4 separate regions of the Homo sapiens genome follow, and regions 2, 3 and 4 are each linked to region 1. The links come from fine-mapping of genetic effects on gene expression. A gene starts in region 1. Each other region holds a variant in brackets. All regions are shown on one strand. Distances are between the middles of the regions.

Evidence for each region. PIP is the estimated chance that this variant, and not a neighbour inherited with it, causes the effect.
Region 2: its variant is the best candidate, but not a certain one, in a credible set for the expression of SYT13 in skin (TwinsUK, PIP 0.77).
Region 3: its variant is the best candidate, but not a certain one, in a credible set for the expression of SYT13 in iPS cells (PhLiPS, PIP 0.81).
Region 4: its variant is the best candidate, but not a certain one, in a credible set for the expression of SYT13 in nasal epithelium (TOPMed, PIP 0.74).

The regions. Positions count from the first base shown.
Region 1 is chr11:45,285,152-45,287,835 of GRCh38, reverse strand. It overlaps SYT13 (synaptotagmin 13), which reads left to right and starts at 1,495. Exons shown (of 6, transcript NM_020826.3): 1 at 1,495-1,811. The coding sequence starts at 1,629. RefSeq lists an enhancer at 1,314-2,100.
Region 2 is chr11:45,258,498-45,261,181 of GRCh38, reverse strand. The region is part of intron 1 of SYT13 (synaptotagmin 13); the gene reads left to right. Among named protein-coding and RNA genes, the nearest start is that of SYT13, 27 kb to the left of the region's middle. The variant C/A (reference allele first, on the strand shown) is at 1,424.
Region 3 is chr11:45,240,925-45,243,608 of GRCh38, reverse strand. SYT13 (synaptotagmin 13) reads left to right here. Exons shown (of 6, transcript NM_020826.3): 6 at 1-2,684. Among named protein-coding and RNA genes, the nearest start is that of SYT13, 44 kb to the left of the region's middle. The variant T/G (reference allele first, on the strand shown) is at 1,466.
Region 4 is chr11:45,263,036-45,265,719 of GRCh38, reverse strand. All of the region lies in intron 1 of SYT13 (synaptotagmin 13), which reads left to right. Among named protein-coding and RNA genes, the nearest start is that of SYT13, 22 kb to the left of the region's middle. The variant G/C (reference allele first, on the strand shown) is at 1,186.

The DNA of each region.
Region 1 (2,684 bases):
AGAGGGAGACTATTGTTTTGATCAAATAGTGTTCTAGAATTTCTGAACCCAGGCCTTAAGACAACTGGCAGCTTCTGCTTCATTCCTCTTAGAATCCAGCCAGCATGCTGTGAGCAGCTCCAGCACCATGGAGAGGTGACATAGAGGACAACCAAAATGCACCAGCTGACAGCCCCATTGTGATCCCAGTGGCAGCCAGCACCTACTGCTCACCACGTGAGTTCACCATTGCACCATCTGCAATGGTGTCTGGAGAGCTGATGTCCCAGTCCAGCTGAACCCCTAGATGACTGCAGTCCCAGAAGACAACATGTTGAGCAGGAAAACCACCCAACTGAGCCCAGCCAACCCATGAAATCATGACAAGTAACACAATAACTGGTCTAAGCCAGTAAGTCATCGGTGGGTTTTTATGCAAGTGTAGATAGCTGAAAAACTGGAGGACGGGTGGGTTCCCAGGTGGTGGTCACAGCTACAGCTCAGAGGAAAAGGTCTGGCTGGAGAGGCTATAGATTTAGGAGACATTGGCTCATAGAAATGTGAAAGCTCTGTTGTGGATGAAATCACCTACATCCCTTTTCACACATGCCCAGCACACCTAGAGCACAGCCAACCCACAGCAAATATCTGCTGAATTAAATTCAACACTCCATATAATGAAGAACACTAAAAAGCCACTGTTTTCTTGAGCTAAGACAGTCCTCATGCCCGGAATTCTAATTTCCCCTTGTTCTAAGCATAGTTTTATGCTCACCCTCTCTGAATCAAGTGTGTACTCCTAGCTGCTGCATTTTATCTTCTTTATCCTCCTAAGACAAGTCCGTTTGAGTGTGGACTTGGAATCTGCAAACATAAGCTTGGGTTCAGGGTGATGATTTTTCTACCTGTGCACCTCTCTTCTGAGCCTCGGCTTCCTCAACTATATATAAAGGTGCGAATACCTGCTGATTAGGTAATAAAGGTGAACTCTTGGGCAACCCTTAAGGGGATGCAGCTGTATTGTCCATCTTCAGCAGGACACAGGTACAGCCTCAACCCAAACATCCCATCTGTTCCCTCTACCTGTGGCCTGTTCCTCTTCCCTGTAAGAACCATCTCCCAGGTTGGGGAGCTGGGAAATCTCCAGCTTTGTGTTTGAAAAAGCTCCCGGAAGACCCAATTTTACAGCCAGCTTGGCCAGCTGCTGGGGTAGAAGGGTGAGCAAGGAGCTAGTAGTCTGGGAAAGTGACTCCTAGAGTCGCAGATCTGGTTGGAGCCCAGGTTTGTCCTCTAACACAGTGTGACCTCCGCAAGCTCCAGCACTTCTTGGGCCCAGTTGTCCCCTGTTGTACACAAAGCATTAAGAATGGCCTGAAACAACCCCAAGGCTCCTTCCACCTGGAAGGCTCCGGCTCCTGTTGGGGTGGGGGTCCGGTCACGTGTTGGCGGGGAGGGGGTTGCCGGTTGACGTGGCTGCGGGTCCAGCCTCCTCTGACGTCCTCGCAGCCGTCCTCCCTCCCTCCGTCCCCGCCCCTCTGGCGGCGGGAGAGCTGCTGGCTCGCCCGGATCCCGGGAGCTGCCTGGAGGCGGGCCCGGCCCGGGGAAGGTGAGCGGCTGCGGGACCCAGCCCCTCGCCGGGAGCGGGCACCATGGTGCTGTCGGTGCCTGTGATCGCGCTGGGCGCCACGCTGGGCACAGCCACCAGCATCCTCGCGTTGTGCGGGGTCACCTGCCTGTGTCGGCACATGCACCCCAAGAAGGGGCTGCTGCCGCGGGACCAGGACCCCGACCTGGAGAAGGCGAAGCCCAGCTTGCTCGGGTCTGCACAACAGGTGAGCGGGGGCGGCGCGCAGGCCCTTCCCGGGCAAGGCGGGGTTGCCGGGCAGCTGCAGAGGGGGAACTGGGGTGGGAGGCGGTCGTGGATCTTTGCGCGACAAAGCTTGGCGGGGAGGGGACAGCAGACGCGTTGGAGGACAGGTCAAGGAGTCAAAAAGGTAGGGGGATGGGGGAGGCTAGGGGATGGGGGAGACGAGACCTGAAGGAGAATTAGGGAGCGGCGAGCTTGTGGGGACTGAGAGAAGAATGGGGGCCAGCAGCGAGACCTAAAGGGAGGGGACAGGAAAGGGGACCTGGATAAGAATTAGGGCTGGGAAGGGTAAGAGGAGAGGGAGGCTGGGAGGGGAATCGCCAGGGTTAGGGAAGACCCTGAGAGGTACCAGAGAATGAGGAGTTTGCAGAATTGGGAAGAAGACTGGGGTCTGTGAGAGGGAGATGGGTGGTGGTTGTGGAGCCAGGGTAGGGCAAGTCCTGCCAGAGCTGAGAAGAGGTAATGCCTGCAAAGCCAGAGGGGAGGTGGCCGCGGTCCCGCAGGAGCTGGGAAGCTAGCTAGCGGGGTCTAGAGAGCTGAATCCGGGAGGAACCTGAAGGACTCTTCCCCACCCCCTAGCAGCTCTGAGCTCCAGCCAGTCAGAGGGGGTTGGTATGGCCTCCCCCAAGATGTCTCTGCAGACGTCCCTGGAGACAGGAGGGCTTTTATCCCATGCATTTGCTCATGGCCAGAGCCCCTTCGTGCAGGAAATAGCCCGTGCTCCCATTGTAAAGAGCAGCAGAAGGGGTCTGGGGAAGCAGTTTGGAAGGATTTCCCTGCATAGGCTGTGACCTCCAGGATGCATTTCCAAAGTACAGAATGCAGAATGTTCTCTGGA
Region 2 (2,684 bases), 27 kb after region 1:
GGGTGTGAGGTGGTATCTCACTGTAGTTTTAATGGCATTTCTCTGGTGATTAGTGATGATGAGCATCTTTTCATGTGCTTATTGGCCATTTGCATATCTTCTTTGGAGAAGTGTCTATTTAAATCCTTTGCTCATTTTGAATCAGGTTGTTTGGGTTTTTGTTGCTGAGTTCCCCTATGGAGCTTTAACTCTCTGCACATCTGGGTTGCTTCTGAGTGGACAGAGTGTCCCTGGTGTCTCATAACTCAGCAGGCATGGAGAAGTCCCAGGGCAGAAGGCAAGAGGGGCATGGCTTGAGCCCAGTGTGAGGACCTGTGTTGCTGTGCCCATGGACAGCTGGTTGGACACAGTGGGGGGAGCAAGCAGCCAAAGGTCCCAGGGACAGGTGAGGCGGAGAATCTAAGGAGGCATTTGAGGGGTCTGATGCACATCTGAGGGTGTGATTCTTCTATCCAGATGTGCATGCAATGCCAAGAACAGCTGTGCACCCATCCTCTAATTGTTGAATGCCTGTCTCCACTGGAAATCTTCCCTCATTCATCCTGCAGATATACTTCCCAGGCTCTATTCCTGGGCTTCAAGGGACACGTAGACAGAGAATATCTGATTCTAAGTCCTGTCCCTCCTGCACCCATGGTGGAAGGCTGGAGCAAGGTCTCTCTCTAGGGCCCTGCTACCCTGAGCACCTCCTTCCCCCAGACATTCTTGTTCTTCACCTAGAACCCTCTCCCAGGCTCCCTCTCTCAACCCCTGAACCTATTTTCTGTTTCTCTGGCACTGAAGTTTCAGCTATTTAAGTGCAAATATAGATGCATTTGAAAGATGTGATGGAACCAGGTTTGAAATGCAATAAATAAGATTGCACAAGAGAAGGAGATAGGTAATCAGCTGCTGCTTTTGCTCCTTGAAAAGACTCATGTAGCTGTCATCAGACTCTGCTCTTGGCCTGGGCAAAGGCTGTAAGTCATTCCCAGCTAAAGCCAGCCATTTGCCACACAGGATAAAGTGGGATAAGAATAAACAGCAAATGAGGATGCCTTGGGCTGGATGCAGAGATTCAAGAGGGTTTCTTTCTACCCTAGGCCCAGTTTCTCTACACCAGGGTCATGATCTCCTGTGATGCTTGAAAAAGGCAATGCATCAGTTTGGGATGCTCTTGGCTGCAAGGCACAAAAATCCCAATTCAAACTGGCTTAAACAATAAGAACAGTACTACTCACGTAACTTGAAATGCAGAAGCAAGACAGATTGCTGGATTGGTTGGCTGAGCAGCTTAATGACATTGCCATCAAGGACACAGGTTCTTTCTGTCTCTCCACTCTGCTGCCCCAAGGCTGACTCACCTTGCAGTCACAAGGCAGGGCCACCCGCTTCCTGTCCAGGGAGGAGGGGACTTCTACTACTGTGGAATCCAAGTCCCTCC[C/A]TTCCATCTGGGTTGGTTTCCCCAGGACTGGTGCCAACCCCTGGGAATCAGTCACCAAGATAATGCCAAGAAATGGAAGGATCTGACCTCTTCCTGGGAGCTGGGGATGGGATGGAACCTAGACAACCTGGTGTTGTGTAGGGCGGGTAGATGGGAGAGGGAATGGATATTGGTAGACAACCAAGAAATGCCCAATCTTTTGCTCTAGGGGTGCATTTTAAGCTCTGGTAACAAGCTCCTGAGGTTATCAGGGACATACAAATTGAGATCCACTGAGGAGGGAGGAAGGCAGAGCCAGAGTGTCAAGACTTGAGGCAACACAGAGTGAACTTCATTCAGAGCTGAGCCCAGTGATTATTTCCCCCTTGAAAATGCAAATTCATCCAAATTGCATCAAACTGGGAATGAAGCCCAGCCCTTTTCTCAGACGATTGAATTGGGATGAAACCAAATATAAACACAAAAATGTTTCCCAGACCACCCAAACAGTCTTAGTTCTGGTCCCAACCAAGTGACAGTAGAGGGTGACTTTAAGTCAGGTGTGTGCTGAGGCCCAGCAGCCTCTGGGAACGCTTTTGTGCCGATGAATGGGAGGGAGTGGCAGTGGGTGGGCCCCTGAGATGCTGTGATTGCCATTTAGAATCCAGTGGCAAGACCGACAGGGATTTTGCAGGGGGCAAGGGGGTGGTGTTGAGAAGCAGCTGCAGGGCAATGGAAATGACAAGAAATTTGAAGTGAAAACATCTGGAGGCTGGATGATACATACCACTTGTCAGTTGTATGATCGTGAGCTTCCCTGAGCCTCAGTTTCCTCATTGTGAAACAGTAGGATGAAGGTAATACAGAGTTATATGAGATATTGAAGGTGGAGGTGACTTTGTGTAGGGTAGAAAGACGGGGACATTAGTCATCGCTCTGTGTGTCTCCTCCAAGGACCCTGAGCATCTGCTGTCAGAAGCACAGACTTTTACTCCCCCAAGCCCGGTCTTCGCCTCTGCCTTCCAAATCCCCCTCTCTTTCAAGGTCTCAGTCATGCCCTGGCTCCTCCCTGAAGGCCAGCTCGGCCTCCCAGGCACCCCTGATTGTGCCCTGCATGTACTGTGCACTGGCCATCATGTGTTATTTACACATACTGCCTCCCGTCTGCTTCTGTATTGTGGTCCAGAGTGGCCAAATATACTTATTTATTTCACCTGTTTGTGATCATCCCTAACTCACCTATACCTGAAAATAAAGCAATGGTGTCTCTCATCTCTTTGCA
Region 3 (2,684 bases), 44 kb after region 1:
AATCAAGCTCACCATGCAGGGCAGTCACCCGGCAGTTCTCAAACTTTAGCATGTGAAGAGTCACCAGCAGATTCCTGGGCTCGCCTGGAGACATTCCTAGTCGGTATTCCTGGTCGAAGCCCAGGAGCCTTCCTTTTTAACAAGCTGATGTAGAGGGTGGAGCACTGTATGTGGAGAAATTCCTTCTACAATATTCCACACAGGTTTTTGGCCACAGTCCTTGATGGAGTCCCAAAACCATGGTGCAGCCAGTTCCAATGCTGGACACCTCAACCATCAGGGTGAAATCTGGGGCCTCAGCTTTTTAATTTAATTATTTTAATTCTTAATACTTTAATTTGTGCATTTCATAAGCCCCCTGCTCTTGGACTGAATTTTGTGCTTTTTATTGAAGAATTTTATTGTTTTTATCTTAAAATCAGTTTCTATTATCCTTGGGGAGACCATCCCTAACAAAGTACAGGTGGGATCTCCTGTGAGTCATTGGCTGGGTTCTGATTGCTAGATGTCACACCCACCAGCATCACCAAAGTGACTCTGAGATAGACCGGTCCCTTCTCAGCGTTCCAGTCACTTCAGGAGGAATTTAGTTATTGACTTAGTCTATGACATCTGGCTACATGTAGGTAGAGAAGAAAGATAATTTTAAAAAGGAAATCAGGTCTTTTGCAACTGTGCCTCCCTCTGTCTGTTTTCACTTGAATGGGTAAATAACCAGCAGCTAGGTTTTGAATTCCTACCTTGTTATTCTAAACAGATGTCCACATTGTTAATTAAATCTAAATTATGAGCCTTGCTGAGTGGATACGGTACTTACACCTGAACCAGGATTCCTGGGTTCTGTTGTTGACATTGCCCTTCAGCACCTGTTTGGCCAGCTGTGTAAGATAGGACTAATGACTAGGAAGCCTACCCCAATGAATGATATACTAGATGAAATAGTGTTCAAAACCTGTAGGCACTCTCTGGCTAAAAACAAACTCTGAGGCCACCAGCAGATCATCTTTAAGCTAAGTTACTATTTTTCACCTTTTTTTTTAGACGGAGTTTTGCTCTTTGTTGCCCAGGCTGGAGTGCAGTGGCACGATCTCGGCTCACTGCAACCTCCGCCTCCCAAGTTCAAGCGATTCTCCTCTCTCAGCCTCCTGGGTAGCTGGGATTACAGGTGCCCACCAACATGCCTGGCTAATTTTTGTACTTTTAGTAGAGATGGGGTTTCACCATGTTGGCCAGGCTGGTCTTCAACTCCAGATCTCAGGTGATCTACCCTCCTCGGCCTCCCAAAGTACTGGGATTACAGGCCTGAGCCACCGCGCCCGGCCTATTTTTCACTTTAATTTGGCAGCTGAGAATGCCCAGAAAGTGCCAGAAGCATCGTGGCATTTCCAGAACCATGGATTCTGCCTTTGGACCCCTCTCTATTAATATTAAAACTCTGGGCCTTCAGATGTCACCCTAATCCACT[T/G]CCCTAAGACAGAATTTCTGGACAAGATGGGTAAGGGCTTCATTCCTTCAACAAGTCAAGTCATACTTGGCCTCTCCCTGAGAATCTGAGCAGGAGCCTTATAACCTGTGGTCATTATTTTTTCTTTCTGTACAGAAATAGAAAAGCATTAGAAATAACTTCTAACCATCCTCTGAAAAAACAGAAAAAATATCGAATCCCTCTTTCATGAGAAGTCTTTTGGATAATTGGAAACCTTCATCACTGAGGTTGGCCAGCCCCTGCCAAGTGTTGTGTAGGCAAAGCACTTGTTAGTGGCTTCCTATGAAATGTTTTAGAGATCTCTTCACCATACTGGTTTCTTCTCTTTGGTTGGTGTGGGTAAAAGAAAACAAAACATTTCCTATAAGCTGAAAGCTGACCAGCATTCTCTTCTTGGTAACATCTACTACTCCAATCTAGAAAATTTGGATTCTAGACCAAAAATCAGGAAACATGGCTCCTTATAAATCTGTGCAGCTGCCTTATAGTACCATCAAAGGAATTTCAGGTGGGCTGGGCGGGGCCCCGATCCCAGAATTATCAACTCCACCCATCATCATTTGGTCATGAAGCATCCTTTCATTCTTCTTCTTCTTTTTTTTGGGGGGGCGGGGCGGGGGAGGGATCTCAAAGTTTTAGTCTTCCAGAATCCAAATTAAAGGTTGCCCCTGATGGGGGCCAGGTTCCGCCACAGAACATCTTAGATGTCAGCCTTGACCTCACTTAGCAGGGATTACAGAAATGAGATACATTTTGAAGGAGAGTTGTCTGTTATGTTCACTGTATTCTAAGTGCCTGGGATAAAGCTGTCTCATGGGTGCTCCATATATATTCATATATATTTGTTGAGTGAATTAATGAATTAAGAGTGGCTGGCAGAGTAGGCAGAAAAAGACACTGCAAATGGCATAAAAATTAAAGTCCTAGCTGAGTTCTCAATGGTAAAGGCATCAGATGTCTTAGCAGTCAAGCTAGAAATTCATGACAATGAGTATTACTATTTGCCTAATGGCAACTCATTGCTCTCCATGTAAATGTAATCAACAGATGAAGAGAATATAATTGCTCTGCTTTTCCACTAAAACTCCATCTTAGTGAATTTTAAATTATCCAGAGATGTCAAACTGCCAAATAAAAATATTTCAGTAGTCTTTGCATCAGCTTACCTTGTACCAGAAACATTTCCAATTTACTATCA
Region 4 (2,684 bases), 22 kb after region 1:
CCTTTGAGGGGTGATCAGGTCATGAGGGTAAAGCCCTCATGATGGGATTAGTGCCCTTGAAGAAGACATGTGAGAGAGATGCTGTCTGCTCTCAACCATGTGAGGATGCAACAAAATGGCTCTCTGCAAACCGGGAAGTGGGCTTTCCCCAGATACCAGATTCACCAGCTCATTGATCTTGGACTTCCAGCCTCTAGAACTGTGAGAAATGAACATTTGTTGTCGAAGCTACCCAGTTTACGGTAAGTTTTATAGCTATCCAAACTGAGATAGGGGTTGATGTTGTGGCATGCTTAGCAGCATTCCTGGCCTCCAGGAACAGCTCCCAACCCCCATGGTGACTGTGGTCAATAGCAGCTCCACTGCCTCCAGTTGTGGCAACCAAAAATGTCTCCAGACACTGCAAATGTCGCCTGAGCGGCCAAATTGTCCCTGGCTGAGATCCAGCACTGTCAGTGGAATCATGCAGTATGTATGCGTAGACAGCTGTCTTCTTTTCCTCAGCATGTTTTGGTAATTCTTCTCTATTGTTGAGTGTACCTGAAACTCATTCCTTTTGTTGGTCGAGGAATATTCCATTGTAAGAATATGCCCCAATGGACTTCTCCATTGTCCTGTTGGTGGAAGGCTGGGCTGCTTTCAGCGTTTGGCTAGGATGAGTCACGTTGCTCTCAGTAGCCATGTCTAAGTCTTCTTGCAGATTCATGTTTTCCTTTCTCTTGGATAAATACGTGGGAGTGGATAAAAACTGTTGAGTCATAGGGTAGATTTATGTTTAACTTTTAAGAAACTTCCAGTTTTCCAACGTGGCTTGCCATTTTCCCTTCCACCGGCACTAGTGACCATCCCAAATGTCTCACATCCTTGTCCACACTAGTGTTGTCAGTCTTTTTGATTTTAGCCATTTTAGTGGGTGTGTAGTGGTGTCTACATTTTTTTTAACATCTTCCTGGGTAATTCTCACAAACAGCTGTATTAGTTATCTATTGCTGTGTAACAAACTACCCCAAAACACAATGGCTTAAAACAACAATGCTTATTATCTCAGTTTCTGTGGGGTCAGAAATCCAGTCATGGCTTACCTAGGTCCTTTGGCTCAGAATCTCTGCCAGGCTGTGGTCAAGGTGTCCTCTGGGGCTGTGCTCATCTCAGGGTTTGACTGGGGCAACCTCTACCTCCAAGCTT[G/C]CTCTTGTGGTTGTTGGCAGGATTCAGTTCTTCCTGCGGTGCCCTCGGGTCTTTGCACATGGGGCTCTCTATAGGAAAGCTTTCAACATTGCAGTGTGTTTTATCAGAGGGAGTGGGTGAGAGAGAGCAAGGAAAATGGAATGTCATTTTTTTGGTAATCTAATCTTAGAAGCATTGTCTTCTCACATTTGCATAATCTGTTCATTCGAAGCAAGTCACTAGGTCCAGCCCATACTCAAGGACAGGGGATTATACAAGGGCGTGGACACCAAGGGACGGGACACTGAGAGGTCTCATCATAGAGGCACCTACCATGGTGGCTCTGATGTGAGAATGCTTGATCTAGACCAGAGCTTCCCCAACCATCTGTGAGAGAGGATCCAGTTTAGCTTAGTTTAGTTTTGTTGTAATGCTCACACTCAATGTCTATATTTATCACAAATGAGTAAAAAAGTAACAACAACAAAAAGTAGTTCATCAACTGGTCCCTACACACAAACCCCACTTTTTGTAGCACCTGACTAGACCCTAGGGTCACATAAATATTGCCGACATTTGTCGAGGGTTGGCTGGGCTAGCCTCTGTCCTAAGAGCTCTGCGTGAGTTATCTTATCTAAGCCTCAATCCAACCCCAGGAGATAGATGCTATTGTTAGCATCCCCATTTTACAGATGAAGAAACTGGGCACAGAGAAGTTAATTAATCAGACCCAAGGTCACACAGCAAGTAATTGACAGAGCCCAGACTCCAACTAAGCTGTCTTGTTTTAGAGCCTGAATACCTGACCAGCAGGATATATTTCATTATATACACGTTAGTGTGCATAATCGCCAGTATTAGAGGCCAGAGCGACAGACTCTTGCAGGTCCCTTTGCCCTGGCCTCACTACCCCCTTGGCGGGGGCTTAGCTATACTATAGACCCCAGCAGCAGCAGTGGCCCATGGTTGGCATCATCTGAATACTGGATGCTCAACTGGATGCTTCTTCTCTGCCCTCCCCTTTTTTAAAGTTCAAGTTTAAGGAGCAAAGATGACCTCTTTTTCAGCTGGATCTGCTTCCCCCACCTGCAACCTCCTGGGTGGTGCAGTGCTACTGTAAGAGGGATGTCCCAGCATGAAACCCCAAATTAATAAACAGCCCTAAGGTGAAAAATTAATCATGTCACAAAAGGGGTCACCTAGCATCTTTGGTAAGGTTAAACGTTTGTTTACAGATCATTAACTACATAATTAAGTTTTGGTTTTCCAACATAAGCCCCATAAGGGAAGGACAGCATCTGTCCTGTTTACTCCCATATTCTGAACACTTAGCATAGGACCTGGCCTGTAGTGGGGCTCAGTAAATATTTGTTCATTAATGAAGGTTCAGGTTCCACCCCCCGTGCCATCTGTCTCTGCCTGGATTATTACTGGAGGCAGAGCCGGAGGCGTCTGTGCTACCCTTCATGAGGAAGCAGGAGCCAGGGAATGGTGGGCAGGGCCTGGGAGGAGAGAGGACA